Regions from separate parts of the Homo sapiens genome. Here region 1 is linked to region 2. The links come from fine-mapping of genetic effects on gene expression. A gene starts in region 2. The other region holds a variant in brackets. All regions are shown on one strand. Distances are from middle to middle.

What was found. PIP is the estimated chance that this variant, and not a neighbour inherited with it, causes the effect.
Region 1: its variant is fine-mapped to the expression of PCDH1 in whole blood (INTERVAL, PIP above 0.99).

What each region holds. Positions count from the first base shown.
Region 1 is chr5:141,846,541-141,854,859 of GRCh38, reverse strand. It overlaps PCDH1 (protocadherin 1), which reads left to right. Exons shown (of 5, transcript NM_032420.5): 5 at 424-1,770. The coding sequence ends at 818. Among named protein-coding and RNA genes, the nearest start is that of PCDH1, 28 kb to the left of the region's middle. RefSeq lists a silencer at 4,935-5,184 and enhancers at 4,835-5,391, 5,745-5,834, 5,950-6,506, 7,263-8,084. The variant G/C (reference allele first, on the strand shown) is at 4,785.
Region 2 is chr5:141,874,749-141,883,067 of GRCh38, reverse strand. It overlaps PCDH1 (protocadherin 1), which reads left to right and starts at 4,658. Exons shown (of 5, transcript NM_032420.5): 1 at 4,658-4,845. The coding sequence starts at 4,806. RefSeq lists enhancers at 1-630, 4,660-5,409, 5,676-6,360.

The sequences.
Region 1 (8,319 bases), 28 kb after region 2:
TCTCTACTAAAAATCCAAAAATTAACCAGATATGGTGGTGGGCGCCTGTAATCCCAGCTACTCGGGAGGCTGAGGCAAAAGAATTGCTTGAACCCGGGAGGTGGAGGTTGCAGTAAGCCGAGATTGCGCCATTGCACTCCAGCCTGGGTGACAAGAGCAAGACTCCATCTCAAAACAAAGAAAAAGAAAAAGAAAAAAGATAGATTATGTGTGTGTGCGTGTGCGTGTGTACAGTAGGCCAGTAGGTCGATGGTGGGAGGGCATGTGTCTCTTTGAGGGTGTGTGTGCCTGTGAGTTCAGCGGTCAGGAAGGGGCGCATACTCCTGTCCTGAGGTGGGGTGTAGATGCCAGTGGGAGGCCATGAAGCAGAGCTTTGCAGAGGCTGTATGTCTGACAATTGTCCTTCCCCGCTCCCTCCTACAGACCTTCGCCCTTTGCCTGATGTCGCCATGACAGGCACATGTACCCGGGAGTGCAGTGAGTTTGGCCACTCTGACACATGCTGGATGCCTGGCCAGTCATCTCCCAGCCGCCGGACCAAGAGCAGCGCCCTCAAACTCTCCACCTTCGTGCCTTACCAGGACCGAGGAGGGCAGGAGCCTGCGGGCGCCGGCAGCCCCAGCCCCCCGGAAGACCGGAACACCAAAACGGCCCCCGTGCGCCTCCTGCCCTCCTACAGTGCCTTCTCCCACAGTAGCCATGATTCCTGCAAGGACTCGGCCACCTTGGAGGAAATCCCCCTGACCCAGACCTCGGACTTCCCACCCGCAGCCACACCGGCATCTGCCCAGACGGCCAAGCGCGAGATCTACCTGTGAGCCCCCTACTGGCCGGCCGGCCCCCCTCCCCCAGCCGCCGGCCAGCTCCCAAATGGCCCATTCCAGGGCCTCACTCTCCACCCCTTCAGCGTGGACTTCCTGGCCAGGGCCCCAAGTGGGGGTATCACTGACCTCATGACCACGCTGGCCCTTCTCCCATGCAGGGTCCAGGTCCTCTCCCCTCATTTCCATCTCCCAGCCCCCAGGGGCCCCTTCCCCTTTATGGGGCTTCCCCCATCTGATGCCCAAGAGGGCTCCTCTGCAATGACTGGGCTCCTTCCCTTGACTTCCAGGGAGCACCCCCTCGATTTGGGCAGATGGTGGAGTCAAGGGTGGGCAGCGTACTTCTAACTCATTGTTTCCCTCATGGCCGACCAGGGCGGGGATAGCATGCCCAATTTTAGCCCTGAAGCAGGGCTGAACTGGGGAGCCCCTTTCCCTGGGAGCTCCCAGAGGAAACTCTTGACCACCAGTGGCTCCCTGAAGGGCTTTTGTTACCAAAGGTGGGGTAGGGACGGGGGTGGGAGTGGAGCGGAGGCCTTGTTTTCCCGTGCTGCTCCTGGACTGGCCCACCTGCCTGCCACATGCCCACGCCTAGTCCCATCTGGGCCCCCATTCCCTGCTGGTCATGCAGTGTCTGTATATAAGGACCTTGGAATGACGTCCCCATTTCTGCCTGATTTGCAACTTTTCTTGTTGATGTCGTGTTGTCTTGGGGGACCCCTCTGGGGGGGGACCTGCCCTGTGCCCCCTCCTCCCTGCCGCAGTGCCCCCCAACCCAGGCCTCTATTGTTCCATGTTGTAAATACCCCTGGGGCCATGGTGGGATGGGGGTGCAGGCCAGGGAAACAACGGGTGGGTGGGGGTGGGGACGGGGGTAACATTTGCCTATCAGCAGAGCTGGGCTTTTATTTAATTTTTCTTAAAAATACAAATCTCTATTTTTTTGGAACTGTTGCGCTGTGCCCTGGGGGGATCCCCGCTCAGGCTGGCCTCCCACATCCAGATGAGCATCACAGAGGGGCCCTGAGGCTGTGGGGGGCAGCTGGACAGGGGTGGGATGACTGTGCCTCTGGCCTGGTTGGGTGAGTTGGGAGCAGGAAGGTTTGCTCAGGGGGTGGCTGGGTGCTGCTCCCGATATAGGGGGCCTGCATCCTGCCCCCTCCCTGCCCTCTCAACCCCCAGCCCCTGCCATGACTGACCCGTCAGCCTGTAAAACCACCATTGCCTTGATCTCAGGGGGTGGGAGGGCTGCCTCAGGGCACCCTGGGCTCCAGGCCCCCTTCTTCCAGTTGGGCTTCCCTTTGTCAGGGTCAGGGGTCCCATGGGGGAGGGGGTAGGGAGGTTGGGGGGCAGAGAAGCCCAGTCAGCCATGATGAGGTGAAGTTCTCTTCTTCACCTCAGGGGGCCAGGGTGTAAGGGGCGTCCTGCAGAGCCCCCGTCTCCCACTGTGGCCATCTCAAAGCCTCAGCCCCTCTTCCTTCCAGAAACCCCCACTGCCTTGGCCCATACCTCTCCAGCTCCCTAGGGGCCCAGGCTGGGAGGCTGGAGACTCAGGGTATGGCCCTTGCTTGACTTAGTCTAAGCTTGGGGAGGTGGTCCAAGATTGCGAGCGGTGGGTACAGGCTGCGGGGTCGTCTGGTGCCTTTGGGAGCTGTGCTGCTGGGGTCTTGACTCTTGTACCCCAGAGACCCCACCCCCACCCCGGAAAAGCCAGGGGCCTGAAGAATCACCCTATTTATCTGCCCCTTACCCCCAACTTGGCTTGGGGTGACAGTGCTAGGAAGGAGAGCATTGTTAGGCTGGTAGCCCTGGCATACGAAGCCCTTCTACAGAGGGGAAGGGGTAGAATGGGATGGGGTGGCAGCAGCCAGGTCTAGGGGTTGGCCAAAGGCTCCTTTCCCTTGGGGAGGCCCAGGAGATGGGCTTGGGGCTTGTTAAAGAGACAGCCCCTTTCCCCTGCACAAATGGGGCAGGTGCAATAGTCTTGGAGTTGGTAGTATTGGGTGCCCAGCTGGTGGAACAGTGGCCTCAAGGATTGTCCTGGGTCCTGGAGGTCAGGATTCGGGCAAGAAGATTGTATGAGGCCCATTTGCTTGGTGGAGAAGGTGGTCCAGACAGGCGGCATTCCTGGGGTCAGTGGACTCCCACTGGAAGCCCCTAGTGGCCTGGGTACCTTGCCCTGGTCTTAGAGACCCCTGAGCACTGAGCAGAAGAGCAGAGGAGCATTTTGCACAATGGAGAAGCCAGAAGAAAGAGGGTGGCCCAGATGGCTGGGAGAGCTGAGAAGCCCTTCCCACAGGCAAAGACAGAGCCCCCAGCCCCCTGGTTGGGGCCAGGGCACTGAGTCTGTCACCAACTGGGCACTGGAGAGATGAAACCAAAGGTGGGCAGGGGTTGGCGACAGCACTGGGGACTATCCCTGTGGGTCCTAGGTCTGTGAAGCCCCTCCCCAATGCCTGTGTCGCGTACAGTTTTATGTACCAATAGGCGACATTTGGCCAGAGGAGAGCCCCCCTCAAACCCAGCCTGACCCAGTCTGTGTCTTCCCAGAGGGGACCTAGTCGGTCCCCATCCCCCTACTTCAGGGCATGTCTCTCCGTAGGGGGAGGGTATATGGGGACATATTTCTCTCCTAGGGTCCTTGAAGCATGTTTCACATTCCGGGGTGGGGGGAAGTTCTCTGGGCATCCCTCACCTCTGGGGTCTCTCTAGGCCCTATCTCTCCCCTTGGGAGTCTCCGGGGGACATGTGTTCCCGCTGAGGACCACGGGAGCATGTCTCCCCCAATTACCCAGGCTCTCTGGGGAGCCTGTTTTCCTCCCAGGGTTCCTGGGAGTACTTAAGGCAAGTCAGTTTCGGGCCATCTCTCTTCCCAGGGAAGGGGGCTATCTCTGAAACACGTCTGGGAAGGGATGTTTCTGGCCCTACCCCCATCTCTCCTATGGGGGTTTCTCTGCCCTGCAGCACTTTAGGATGAGGCTGGGCATCTCTGAGTTGTCTTTTCTCCTAGGAGCCCTGGGATACCTCTCTCTCCCGAGGGTAGGGCCTCTGGAGCCATTTCTTCCCTGGGTCGGGGCTGTCTCCGGGTGTTGGGAGGGCTTGTGTTGGCCATGAGAAAGTCTCTTAAGGGGCGTCTCCACTGGGGACTTCTCTGGGAGGGGGGACTGTGTCCCGCCCATGGGGTTTCGGGCGGGTGTGTCTGCCCATGGGGAGGGGAGACTGTGTCTCCTCGGGTTATCTAGTGGGGAGGGGGGCCGTGTCTCTCTCGTGTGTAGGGGGGTGGGGGTCGGGGTGGGGGGTTTTGGGCGCGTCGGGTGCCCACATTGGGGTCGTGTTTCTCTTGGTTCGTGCCACTTCCCACTGCCTCGCTCCTCCCGGGAAGGGCCCCCGCCCCGCCCCACCCCACCCCATCCCTGGCGCTGCGAGCACAATCCCGTTGATTTGTAATGATTTCTGTCTCTTTCTGTCTTTCTCTTTCTCTGACCCCCCCACCCCCACCCCCACCCCCCCCCACCCCGCCGCGAGCATGCGCAGGCACCGCCCCTACCCCCTCCGGTTCGGTTCGTTTCCGGTTTGTTTGCTGAGCTGTCAATGAAAGACCCGTGTAATTATTCCCGAGCTTTACAATAAAAGTGTGAAAACCGGACCCCACTCAGCTTCTTCCGGGTCCTCGGGCCTGCGTCCCGTGGAGAGTGGGAGCTAAATCTGGAGGCCTTGGAGAGGGCTGGGGGACGCGAGGGACAAGAGACTGAGACCCGCACTGGTATTAATCGGGGATGGGGTCGAGCTGACGCGTTCTGAGGATAGACTCCTAGTCCGTACACCTCAAAGTGACCCCTGCCGGATCCTCTGGGCCCGACCTGCTGTGGGCACCCCCTCCCCGCAAGAACTCAGGTGCAGGATGGGGTGGGAGGTGACCGCAGGAGAGGTTTTGTGCTGCGCTGCCTTCTTCCCCGGGCGCCC[G/C]CAGGACGTGCAGTCGTTCCCGGGTGTATCCATTCCCGCTCCCCACTCTTTGGCAACGAGTGTGAATTGCGGAACTGGATAGGATAAGGGGCGGGAGACATCTGTCTGTCTGCCGCGTTCTCCCACGCTCAGGAACGAGGGTTGGAAGTCGATTTAGGGGAAAGGAACCGAAAAGGTCTCAGCCTCGGTCTCCGACTGCGCTCCCCTCCCCCCTTCCGGGCTCGACCGGCCCCGGCCTCCTCCGTCCGGCTCCCGGGTAAACACCCGCTCCGGAGAGGTCGGAAAACAGAGACCGGATCAGCCGGTTCCTGGCCCCGCCTCCCGGGGCGTTGCTCCCTCCTCCGCCCCTCCCCACCCCCACACCCGCCCAGCGTCGCGCGCTTTTGCTCGACCCGCGCCCTAGCTCCCTAGGCCGGTACTGTGTGGGCCTCGCTCCGGACCCCGGGGTCGGTCCAGCCGCTGGGATTAGCCGACCGCAGGGACTAATCCCGGATGAGCCTCGTGTAAACCCGGATCGACAGCGGGGACGGCGGGGGTTGCTGGCACCCCTTCATCCGTTCCCAGACGCGGAGCATCACGGGGCATAGAGCCCACCCCGAGGCTCCTTGCTGCTTTCGGAGAGACCCGAGTTGGATCTGCAGTTGGGGGCGTGGCGGGGCAGGAGATGAAGAACGCAGGGCCGGGATCTGACGCGCCGAGAGCCTGGCGCGGGGTGACTGGGGTGTGGGGCGGAAAGGCAGAGATCTCTCGGGCAGTACTTGAATCTACCGGCTTAGGTCAGCTCCCTACTCAGTCTACAACCGAAGCCCCCTACCTATCCTCCAGTTACAGAATCACAGACCCTCCCCCTACCAGTGGGTGTGGCAACCCTTCCTAAACCTGAGGCCTCACCTCATTAGGAGAGGCGCTGAATCAGCGGGGGAGGGGCCCGCATTGTCTCCACCCCTGACTTGACCCCACAGTGAAGGGTGAGGAGTTCCTTCTGTTAAGGCCTAGCCCAGGAAAAGATGTCTGGAGTTAAGGAAGTTGGAGGAGATGTGGTGGCCGACTGGGTACCAGAATCCTGTCACTGGTTGATTAACTCATTCTACAAACATTTCCTGAGCCCCTCCCATGTGCCAGACCGGCACAGGGTACTGGACCCCAAGAATGACACACAGTCTCTGTGGGAAAGGCAGACAGGTAAACAATGACCACATCTTGTGTTCGGCCCTGCCTTGAGCCGGAAATTCTGGCAGGAGACCTAAAGGCGCTGTCCTCTCCAAAGTCTAGAGGCTTTCTGGAAGGGGTGGTGCCAGAGCTGAGTTTCAAAGGGCAAATGAGGGATAGGCTACTGAGGAAGGGGTCAGCCTTGCAGGCTGAGGAGGAGTATGTGCCAGGGTCTGGAGGTGGAGGAGGAGGTGAGGTGGCTCAGGAGGGCAGGAGAAGTTGGAGAAGAAGGCAGGGGCCAGAACTAAGGACCTGCTGGTCAACTTAAAGTGCTTGGATTGAGGGGTTGGAGAGGAGCCATTTACAGATTTTAAGCCTGTAAAAGAAAAGGTCAGATTTACATTCTTCCAGATTCTGTGTTCCTCCCTTCCCTGCCCCAGGTTTCTCTGGGGATGCCTGGGTTGGGAGTGGAGATACACAGGCAGACAGGAAGAGGAACCAGGTGCAGTTTAGGCTGGTTAAGAATGGTCCCTGGCTGGTCGCGGTGGCTCACACCTGTAATCCCAGCACTTTGGGAGGCCGAGGTGGGCTGATCACGAGGTCAGGAGTTCGAAACCAGCCTGGCCAACATGGGGAAACCCCATCTCTACTAAAAATATCAAAATTAGCTGGGCACGGTGGTGCGCACCTGTAATCCCAGCTACTTGGGAGGCTGAGGCAGGAGAATCATTTGAACCCGGGAGGCAGAGGTTGCAGTGAGCCGAGATTGTGCCACTGCACTCTAGCCTGGACAGCAGAGCAAGACTCCATCTCGGAAAACAAACAAAAGAATGGTCCCCACTTTCCATCAAACTTGGAGTCAGAGAGACCTACGTTAGAAATTTGGCTGTACTTATTTCTAGTGGCATGACCTTGGGTAGGTGGCTGAGCCTCAGTTTCTTCCTCTGTAAGGTGGGGATAATAGTGCTTACCATCACCAAAGGTTATTGTGGGGCTTCAATGAGATAATTTGTCCACTTTTTTATTTATCACACGTCTAACACCTACTAAGTGGCAGGCACTGTCTCAGGTGCTAGCATTATGGTGCTGAATAAGACAGGCATGATGCCTACTCTCTCTCTCTGGGAACTTGCATTCTAGAGGAAAAGACAGACAATAAACAAATAAATGAGATAATTATAGATTGTGTTAAAGTGCTGTGAAGGAAACAAACAGTGGGACAAGAAGGAGGATAACTGGAGGTGGGGGAGGGGAGGGGGCTGCTTTACCCAGCCAGGGAAGCTTCCCTGAGGAAACCTGAAGGTTGGCCAGTGTACTCCAGCCTGGGCAACAAGGTGAGACCCTGTCTCAAAAAAGAGAAAAAAAAAAATAACCCTGAAGTTTTAGAGCTTGGCAAAGAACATTCCAGATACAAGGAAACTGCAGGGAAATTGCCTTCAAAGGCCCTGAAGTGGGAGAAAAGAGCATAGCCACAGTACTCTAAGATGCTAAGATTCCTCAGGGCAGTTACCTGGGTTTCTTTTCTTCTAACCTTCTGGGCAAAGTGAGTAGAAATGGAGGGGAGTTGGCCGGGTGTGGTGGCTCACGCCTGTAATCTCAGCACTTTCGGAGGCTGAGGCGGGCAGTTCGAGACCAGCCTGATCAACATGGAAAAACCTCGTCTCTACTAAAAAAAAAAATACAGCCGGGTGCGGTGGCTCACGCCTGTAATCCCAGCACTTTGGGAGGCCGATGCGGGCGGATCACGAGGTCAGGAGATCAAGACCATCCTGGCTAACATGGTGAAACCCCGTCTCTATTAAAAATACAAAAAAATTAGCCAGGCTTGGTGGCGGGCGCCTGTGGTCCCAGCTACTCGGGAGGCTGAGGCAGGAGAATGGCGTGAACCCGGAAGGCGGAGCTTGCAGTAAGCCGAGATTGCGCCACTGCACTCCAGCCTGGGTGACAGAGCGAGACTCCGTCTCAAAACAAACAAACAAACAAACAAAAAAATTAGCCGAGCATGGTGGCGCATGCCAGTAATCCCAGCTACTCGGGAGGCTGAGGCAGGAGAATCGCTTGAACCTGGGAGGCGGAAGTTGCGGTGAGCCGAGATCACACCATTGCACTCCTGTCTGGGCAACAAGATTGAATCTCGGTCTCAAGAAAAAAGAAAAAAATGGAGGGGAGTTTCCATCCTGCTGGGCCAAACCCCTTCCCCTCCAACCCCATCCCCTGGAGTAATATTGGGGAGATGTGGGCTTCATCAGTCAGCCCATCTGTCCAGCTTAATCTTCCACCTGTTCTATAGCTGCCCCCAACCCCCCTCCCAGTTTCAGGACAGGTCTCAGCCCGCTATTTTCCCAGTGGGTTCTGGGGTTCCTAGTCCTCTTGGGCAGGCGGGGCA
Region 2 (8,319 bases):
GGGTGGGGAGGGAGGAACCCCCACTACCTGTGGCAGGGAAGGGGAGATTCTGTGCCCCTTCCTCAGGAGGCAGCAAAGCCAGCTACCAAGCTTTTGCTACCTCTTCCCCCCACTCCACGCTCCATCCCGCCTGGTTCCCCAAATCGGGGTCCCACCCTCAGTTTGCATGGGGCAGCTCCCCGTTTCTCTCGGTCCTTTCATCGGGGGCTGTCCCTAAGGCTTGGTCCCTCCTTCCTGCTCCTGTCTCCCCTCCGATTCTTGCACTGCACAGCCTACCCAGTTTCTATGGAAACAGGCTGGGAAGGCACTGCCAGGAGGCCAAGGCCACTACAGCTCTTGGGGGGAGGGGAAGATAGAAATGGAAAGAGAGACGCAGGAGGCGAGTTCTGGCCATTCCCGGAAGCGGGTGGAGATCTGTTGGGAGTGAGCCTTCACTGCCAGAGGGGTGGGGCAGAAGGAGAGGTGTGATTAAGTGATGTGACTGAGACAGAGTTGAGGGGCTCCTCCTCATTCCCCCAATTCCCAGTGCTCCAGACATCTAGACAAGCCTCCTCAGAGGGGAAAGTGGTGGATGAAGAAGGAAAAGAGACAGGTAGTACCAAGAGCTCTGCCCATTTCTAACTTATGTGAGGCTCTATCCTTTTACCCCTCCTGGGGACATGCCCACTTGAGAGGAGGTCTCCAGGGAACTAGAAGGCTCCCAAGAAGTGGGAGGGAAAATTGGAGTGCGGTGTGAGTGGTCAGGGATGTTCAGGAATCTCCCCTAGGAAGGTGAGCTAGAGGTGGGCAGAGGCCTCGGAATGTCAGCTACTTTTATGGTACCCCTCTCTGGCACCTCCACTGAGGAGTTGGTAGGGGGCTGGAGACTGTCAGCTTCCTCCCCTCTGTTCATCCCATCAGAACGTTGGGCTATGAGAAAACAAAAGTGGCCTAGTGGGGGTTGGGTGCACAGAAAGGGAGATAAGCCTAAGGCAAGAAGGGCCAGAAGAGGGGTGGGTGAATGAGTGAGTGCGGATGCTTGTGGCTAGGGCAGGGAGGGAGCTTCTTAGAAGCTTCATCTGCCAGCTCCTGGGAAGTGATCCCCAGCCCTCACCCTCTCCCGATGCTCCCACCTCAGGCAAAGCTGCCCCTTGGACAGGAACTATTGGAAATCTCAGAGTCCTGGGAGATTGTGCTGTGGGGGATTCCTTGGAAAGGGGCCTTCTAGGTTATCAGAACGTTCAGCAAAGCTTCCCTGGGGGAGAGGGGTAGTGAAACAGGTACCCTGGAGCCTAGGGTTTCCTGGATCTGAGCCATCGGCTCTCCCTGACCATAGTCCCCAGAACAGTCGTCTTGGTGTTTGCTTATTTTGGTTATTTTTTGATCAGATATTTTGGCACTGAGCACACTGCCTCCTGTTGCCATGGCAGCCGTGACAGGGGCTGAGGCACCGTGAGAAAAATACCAAAATTAATGAGTGAGCGAAAGTGCAGCCGAGAGAAAAACAAGGTTAAAAAAAGAGTTAAAACAGTAATGAAAACAGGCTTTCCAGCTCCACAGCAGAGCAGCTGCTGAGGCCTCCCCAGAGCAGCAGCCCCCACCCAGCCTAGAGCTCCTGGCATCTCCCAGACCTCAAGGCAGGACTCACTTGGCTTCCCCCACCCAGCTCGTCACTGACCCAGCAACAGCCACTTGGGGACCACCCTATGCACAACAGTAGATCAGCTCCAACAGTACATCAGCTTCCATCTCAGGTAGTATCCTGCCTCCCAGAACAGCTTGTCATCTCCTAAACAATAGAGTCTCAGCCACAGCCCCCACACAACAATGGTCCAGCAAAATTACCAGGAAATGGCCTCCTAGCTACACCCAAGCTTTAAAGTTATAGCTGCAGGCATCCCAGCTAGAGTCCAGCACACAGTAACAGCCCAACCACAATTCTGAGCAACAGCATCTTAGCTATAGCCAATCCCCAGTATGCTGTCATCACAGCTACAGCTCCAGGACCAATAGCAGCTCAGCTACAGTCCTATACACAACAGTAGCTCTGCTCCTATCCCAGGTAACAGCCTGTCTCCCAGGTACAGGCTCCTCGCAACAGCCTCTCATCTCCTAGGACCTAGGCAATGGATCCAGTTACAGTCCCATCTACATCATATTAACAGGGAACAGCTTCTCAGCTACAGCCAGTCTCAGGTGTGCCAGCCTCATATCTATAGCTTCAGGCCCAACAGCTTATCAGTTACAGTTCTCCCTCAACATGCACACACACACCCATATACACACAGCTTGGCGATAGTTTCTCAGGTAATCTTATTGGCTATAGCCTAGGCACACCAGCATCAGAGCACTGCAACAGTGTCCTAAGTACAATCAGAGGCAGCAGCCTTGGTGTTACAGTTCCAGGCCCTACAGCATCCTAGTTCACTTAGCCACAGCCCATCCCAGGTACACGGATATCACAGCAAGCACCCCAACCATTCCCATACCCAGCATCACCCTGGTTCCAATCCCTGGCCACAGTCTCAGCTGGAACTCAGGCACCATCAGTTTCAGGAGCCTCCCCCAGTGCTTCACTTGCCAAGCAGGTCCTCCTCCCACTTTGGTACAGGGCCAGAAGTCTGACTTCTCTCCTCTTCAAATGCCACCTCCCTTGCTCCCCAACCATCCTCCCAGTCCCTGCTTGCTCACCTGCCCTCTTTCCTGGGGAAAAAAGGCCCCAATTCTCATATCTACATTGTCCCTGACTCAGGGGCACAGAGCCCAGCCTGGCAGCTGGGGTAGGAGGGGCTGGGGAGCAGGGAGAAGAGTAGGCACACCCTGGTGCTGCTGCTGTGGCCCAGTTCTGCTCCTACCACTTGGTGCAGAATTTGAGTTTGATGGTGGTGGAGCAGGGAGGATGGAGGCGAACATCTGGGAGATTAGCATTTCCTGCCCAGCTCTGCGGCTGCTGATCCTGCTCAGCCCTGAGCAAGGGAGGAGAACAGAGGAGCCTTTGAATGGCTCCCAGCAAGCAGACTGGGGAGGGTTTGCTGCATTGGGCAGCGGGCACACGCTGGGGGCAGGGAGACCGGGGCAGCTCTTCTGTGGAAGATTTCTTCTCTCTGGGCCACTGATTCCCTCCTCGGAGCTGTGCTCAATGATGTGGAGAGTATGAGCTTTCTAGAGACAGAAAGAAGCTACTTACAGAACAGACCCACCCCCCTCTTTCACCAGATTACCCCATCTCCCATCTAGAGCCCTGCCCCTGGGCTCCTGGGGCTGAGGGATAGAGCAGAGCCCAGGTCAGAAAAGGAGTCCAGTTAAGCAGGGCTGCTCTGGGAGAGATCTTGGACAGACTTTGCTTGCCCTCTTAGCTAACCAGAGATTCCACTTTTACCCTGAAGAGCATCCCACCGAGAGAGGCCAGAGCTGAGAAGAGAAGGAAGTAGAAGAAAGAGGAAAGGCACAGAAGAGTGGTAGGAACAGGAAAATGGGGAAGGACAGAGATGGGGAGTCAGAGGCTATGGCAAAAAGAGGCCCAACAACTGGTCATCCCATAACAAGAGCCTTTCCTCACCCAGCACTAGGCCTGGCTAGGGATAACCTTCCTCATTCTTTTGACCTAGAACACTCTGCCTGGGCCTGCAGGCGAAGAAGGCAGGAGGTCCTGTTGAACTGGGACACTTGGTAGCCTGGGTTACCAAACCGCAAGCGCAGGAGAGGGAGTTCCCAAGCTACTCAGAGACCTCTAGATGGCGCCAGAGAGCCAGAGCTGAATGGGAGAAACCGAGTATTGGAGTGTGTGAGACACTGCGTGTGACACCGTGTGTGATTTGGTGTGAGTGTGATAGGGAGCGTGTGGCACTGCGAGGGCGTGTGACACAGGCCGTGACACTGCGCGGCCTCGCGGGGCAGGGACCCGGTGACTGTATAATGTAAGTCACTGGCAAATACGTGTGGCCGCAGCACTACGCCGTGCAGAGGGCAGGTGATCAGGGGACCCTCGAATAGCCTAAGCTCAGGAGCAGCACTTCGTCTTCACGCTTGTGTATCTTCCCCATCCTCACTCTAGAGCCCCCGGGTCCCATTAGCCTCCTCCTCCCACGGTCCCCTCCATAGCCCCACCCCCACGGCTTGCTGCGGCCACCGAGGCTGACCGCTCTGCGGCTTCGGCCGGAGGGGGAGGGGTGGACTTTCCCCGAGCGCAGCGGGAAGGGAGGGCCACACAGGGCGATCGGGGATCTGGGCGGGAAGAGGGTGGATATGGAGGAGCAGGTGCCCAGGGAAGAAGGCGCTGTGGGAGACACTTCCCTTGCCTCGACTTCCCAGGGGGCAGACAGAGCTGGGGACAGGTGTTTGAGTAGGGTAAGGAGGGGAATCCAGGAGCGGTCCTAGATGGAGGCTTGGGTGGGATAAGTGTAAGGTGAAGCTCAGAGGAGGGCACGGCCTGTGTACTGGGCCTCGGGCAGTGAAGAGATGGCAGAGGGAGGGGTCCAGGCTTTGGGGAGCGGTGCTCGGGGTCCCCTCCCAGCCGGACCGGAGCGGTCCCGAGCTCCACCTCCCGGCCGGAGGGGGGGCGGGGAGGCGGGCGGGCCGGGAGGGAGGGGGGAGGGAGGGGGCGGGCCGGGCTGTGCGCTCCGCTCTCTGCTGGCTCCGCCGCCGCCGCCGCCGCCGCCGCCGCCGCCGCCGCCGCCTCACACACTCGGGGAGCGGGAGCGCGGCGCGGACGCAAAGCCGCCGGGCTGCTGCGCCCAGAGCCAGCCGGAGCCGGAGCCGGAGCCCGAACTGCAGCTCCAGCCCCAGCCGTGCGGAGCCGCAGCCCAGGCCGGGGCCGGCGGCGGCTCATGGACAGCGGGGCGGGCGGCCGGCGCTGCCCGGAGGCGGGTAAGGATCCGGCGGCGGTGGAGGCAGCAGCGGCTTGGGGCCCGAAGCGGTCATGGCCGGCGGGAGCTGAGGGAGGGGCGCTCGGCGGAGCGAGGCCGCGGGGGCCCAACACGAGCTCGGCGCGAGGGGGCTGAGGTGGGGGCTGCTGGGAGCCCATAGCAGGGGATGCGGCTGAGGGATTCCGTCCTCCCAGGTCCGCGGCGAGAAGCCGAGGGAGGGGAGGGGGTGCTGAGCAGAACCCTAGTCCCCGCGTCCCAAACCTGGGCGCGCTCGGAGAGACGGGGATAAGGAGACTCCAGGAGCGCGCGGCGTGGAGGATGGGTTTGGGGAAGCGCGCGGCCCCCAGTTTGGTGGGGGTCTCCCGGAGGACGGAGCAAGCAAGGACCGTTGTCCACAACACATACATACACACTTGTTGGGCAACTACCTCGGCTCACTCAGCCGCTTCCAGCTTCTCGCGGGCACCCAGAGGGCCAGACCGTGGACATATATACACACATACATACATCCCTGCATATGTGCACACAGACATACCTCCCGCACACCAGCGCCCACTGGGGCACCGTCGCCAGCTCAGAATCCGCTTCAGTGTCTGCACGATCAGCAGCACCGACACACAACCCGTGGCTTTACAGAGCAATAACACAACCGGGTGTGACACCCCGCGACGTGGACACACAAACACAATCTCGTGCCCTCATGTACGAGTGTCACAGCCACAGTTCACTAGATGAACCCTCAAAACCTAGCCACCCCCCACATTCCTTTAAGGAACACACCCTAGCATATATCATCTTACCCACTTCTTGGCCAGAACATAGGTACACAGCACAGGTCTCCTTGCACCCCTCTACTGCACCCACACAAACACACAACCCAGTATCTCAGCACACGCTTGATGGCACACACTCTAACACAGGAATTGGCACCTACAGCAGCGCCTCACGGTCACAAACACAGAATCCACTGCTTCACCCATCTTAACACTGGGTGTCACACACACCTTAAACCAACAGTGTCACATTACATTACACCCTGCAGCGCATACACACAAACACACACACTCCGTTCCTCTCTCTCGGAGTCCAGATTCAGGCAGGAGAAGCCGCCGGGGTCGTTCGGCGAGCCCCAAGCGCCCCGCCACGTTAATCGCGACATTATTATTGTAAATATCGGCACAGCGGGAAGGCTGGGCCGGCCTGCCGGCTTCCCAGTCGGCGCCTCCCCAACCCCCACTCCCGGGCCGAACCGGCTGGTGTTCCGGGAACAAGCTGGACCTGGCTGGCCAAGCCATCCCGCCTCCCCGGAGCTCTGGGGCCCCAGGTTCCTTTGTAGAGGGTGCTAGCCTGGGACGGTGATTGCGACCCTCTTCCAGCCATTTAGCTGAGTTTTCTGAGCCACCTGGGTCTCCAGCACACCTGGGTCCCACACACCTTGGTGGGTCCCGCACACCTGGGTTCGTCTCACACCTGAGCGCCCCCTCCGCCTGGTCCCCGCTGTAGGCCAGTGTGTGCGCGGGCAGGCCCTGGAGCCAGAACGGAGATCGCGGCAGGCATAGGAGCAGAATTTGTAGGCGAGGTGGTCTCGCACCCCTTCCCCCCAGCTACCCTCTGTAAGTCAGAATTCTGGCCTCAGTTTCCCCAACAGTGGTCGGCTACTATTTCTTCTGCCAGGAAAGACTGGGGGCGGCACTGAGGCCTTGGAGGATTGAGCGTAGGGCAAAAAACCCCCTCTGCTCGCCACGAGAGGGTCGGTTTTATGAGAATGTCCCCGCCTAGCCGGGTTCGCGGCTTTGTGATTCCGGCGCCGGCTCCCTCCCCGCCCCCTCCTGGCGCCCGCTGCGCCGCTCGCGCCGGCTCCGGCTTGCGGGGGACCCTAGGCCGAGGCCGGAGATGCCGGGGAGGAGGGATTCCCCGCGGTGGCCTGGGTGCGGGGGGCGCAAGGGCTCCCCCCACTAGCCGAAGCGCGTTCTCACCACGCCGCGCCCTAGCCTTGCCTTGGGTTCCTGGAGGCTGGGCGCTGCCGGGGTGGGGGTGGGGCCGCCAGAGCCCAAGAAACTGCCGCCGTCCCCCCCGCCACCCCCTAATCTCCGCAACACACACACACACTCGGCGTCCTCTGGGAGGAGTCGCTCCGCGCGCTGGGTGTGTGCTGGGAGCGCCCGCTGACCAAGGCGGTGCGGACTGGGGCTGCTTGGGTCGCTTCGTGCAGGAAGACGCCGCGAGGCTTCTAGCACCTGCTCTGGGTCAACCCTCGGGAGCTGCCAGGGAAGGGGCCGCCCAGAAAGTTTTTATGACAAGCCGGAGGTCTAGCTGTGTTTGTAGGGGGTGGGGGGCGCGGGAGTAGGTGGGTGTTACTTTATTGACGTTAAGGTCTGGGGGAATTGGAACCTGTAATTACAACTAGACTAGGGCATGGGGTGGAATCGAGGGGAGAGGCAGACTGGCCCCCAGAGGTAGCCAGAGGCAGTGTGATAGGGAGGCAAGTCTGGATTCAGTTCTGGCCGCATTTAGTTTTTACCCCTTCTCCTACCCACCTCCAATTCCCAATTCCAAAAGGGACTTCAGCTGGAAGTGGGTGTCTTGCTGGTCTGCCATCTTCTTAGCAGAGGGGCTGCTGCTGTGGCTACTTCTGCAGGGGAGCTGGGCAAGCGATAGTAAGCTAATTGCTGAGAAGGGGGTTGAAGGGCCAGGAGGGGGCCGCGAGGGTGGGGGAGGAGCTAAGTGGGAATCAGGGTTCGGGGAGGGGTGTAGGGAAAGAAGAAGGTGAGGGCTGCCCCTGCCGTGAGCAAGGATAGTTGGTGCAGAGATTCTGTTCAACAATGTATTGAGCACCTTTTATCTGCCAGGGTCCATGGTGGGTGGTGAGGATGCAGTAGTAAGAGACATACCATCATTGCCTTCATAGGACTTACCAACCAGCGAGGGGATTGGCTTGTTTATTCATCGAACCAAGGAGCACCCACTGTGTGCCCGATGCTGGAAATAAAATGGTCTATTCAGCAATTAGAAGACTTAGAAAAAAAAATGATTTGTCCTTTACATGTAATGTAAATAGACCTTAATGTAATAGACCTTATAGGCATGAGATCTCATTTAATTCTCCCAAATAATTTCAAGAGGCAGGTTTCATTATTTCCATTTCACAGTATGGAAACAGGTTCAGAAAAGTAAATTCACTTGGTTAATGTCACACAGCTAGGAAGTGGTGGAGCGAGGGTTCTAACCCCAACGATCTGACATGCAGGTGCCCAGAAGCCCTGCAGAGGCTAATAGAGGGTTGTGGGAGAGAGGGGAGAGGAGCTGAGGTCTGCACACTTGCTCTCTGTGGGAGGCTTCTGTTCAGCTCCACCCCACGCAACCCCATTTTCTTCCCCTCTCCCCGCGACAGTCCGTTTGTCCCTTGGTGTTTTGTGCCCGCGGCAGTGACCGTTGTGTAACAGTGCTGGGGTGAGGGTGGGGAGTCAGAGCTGAC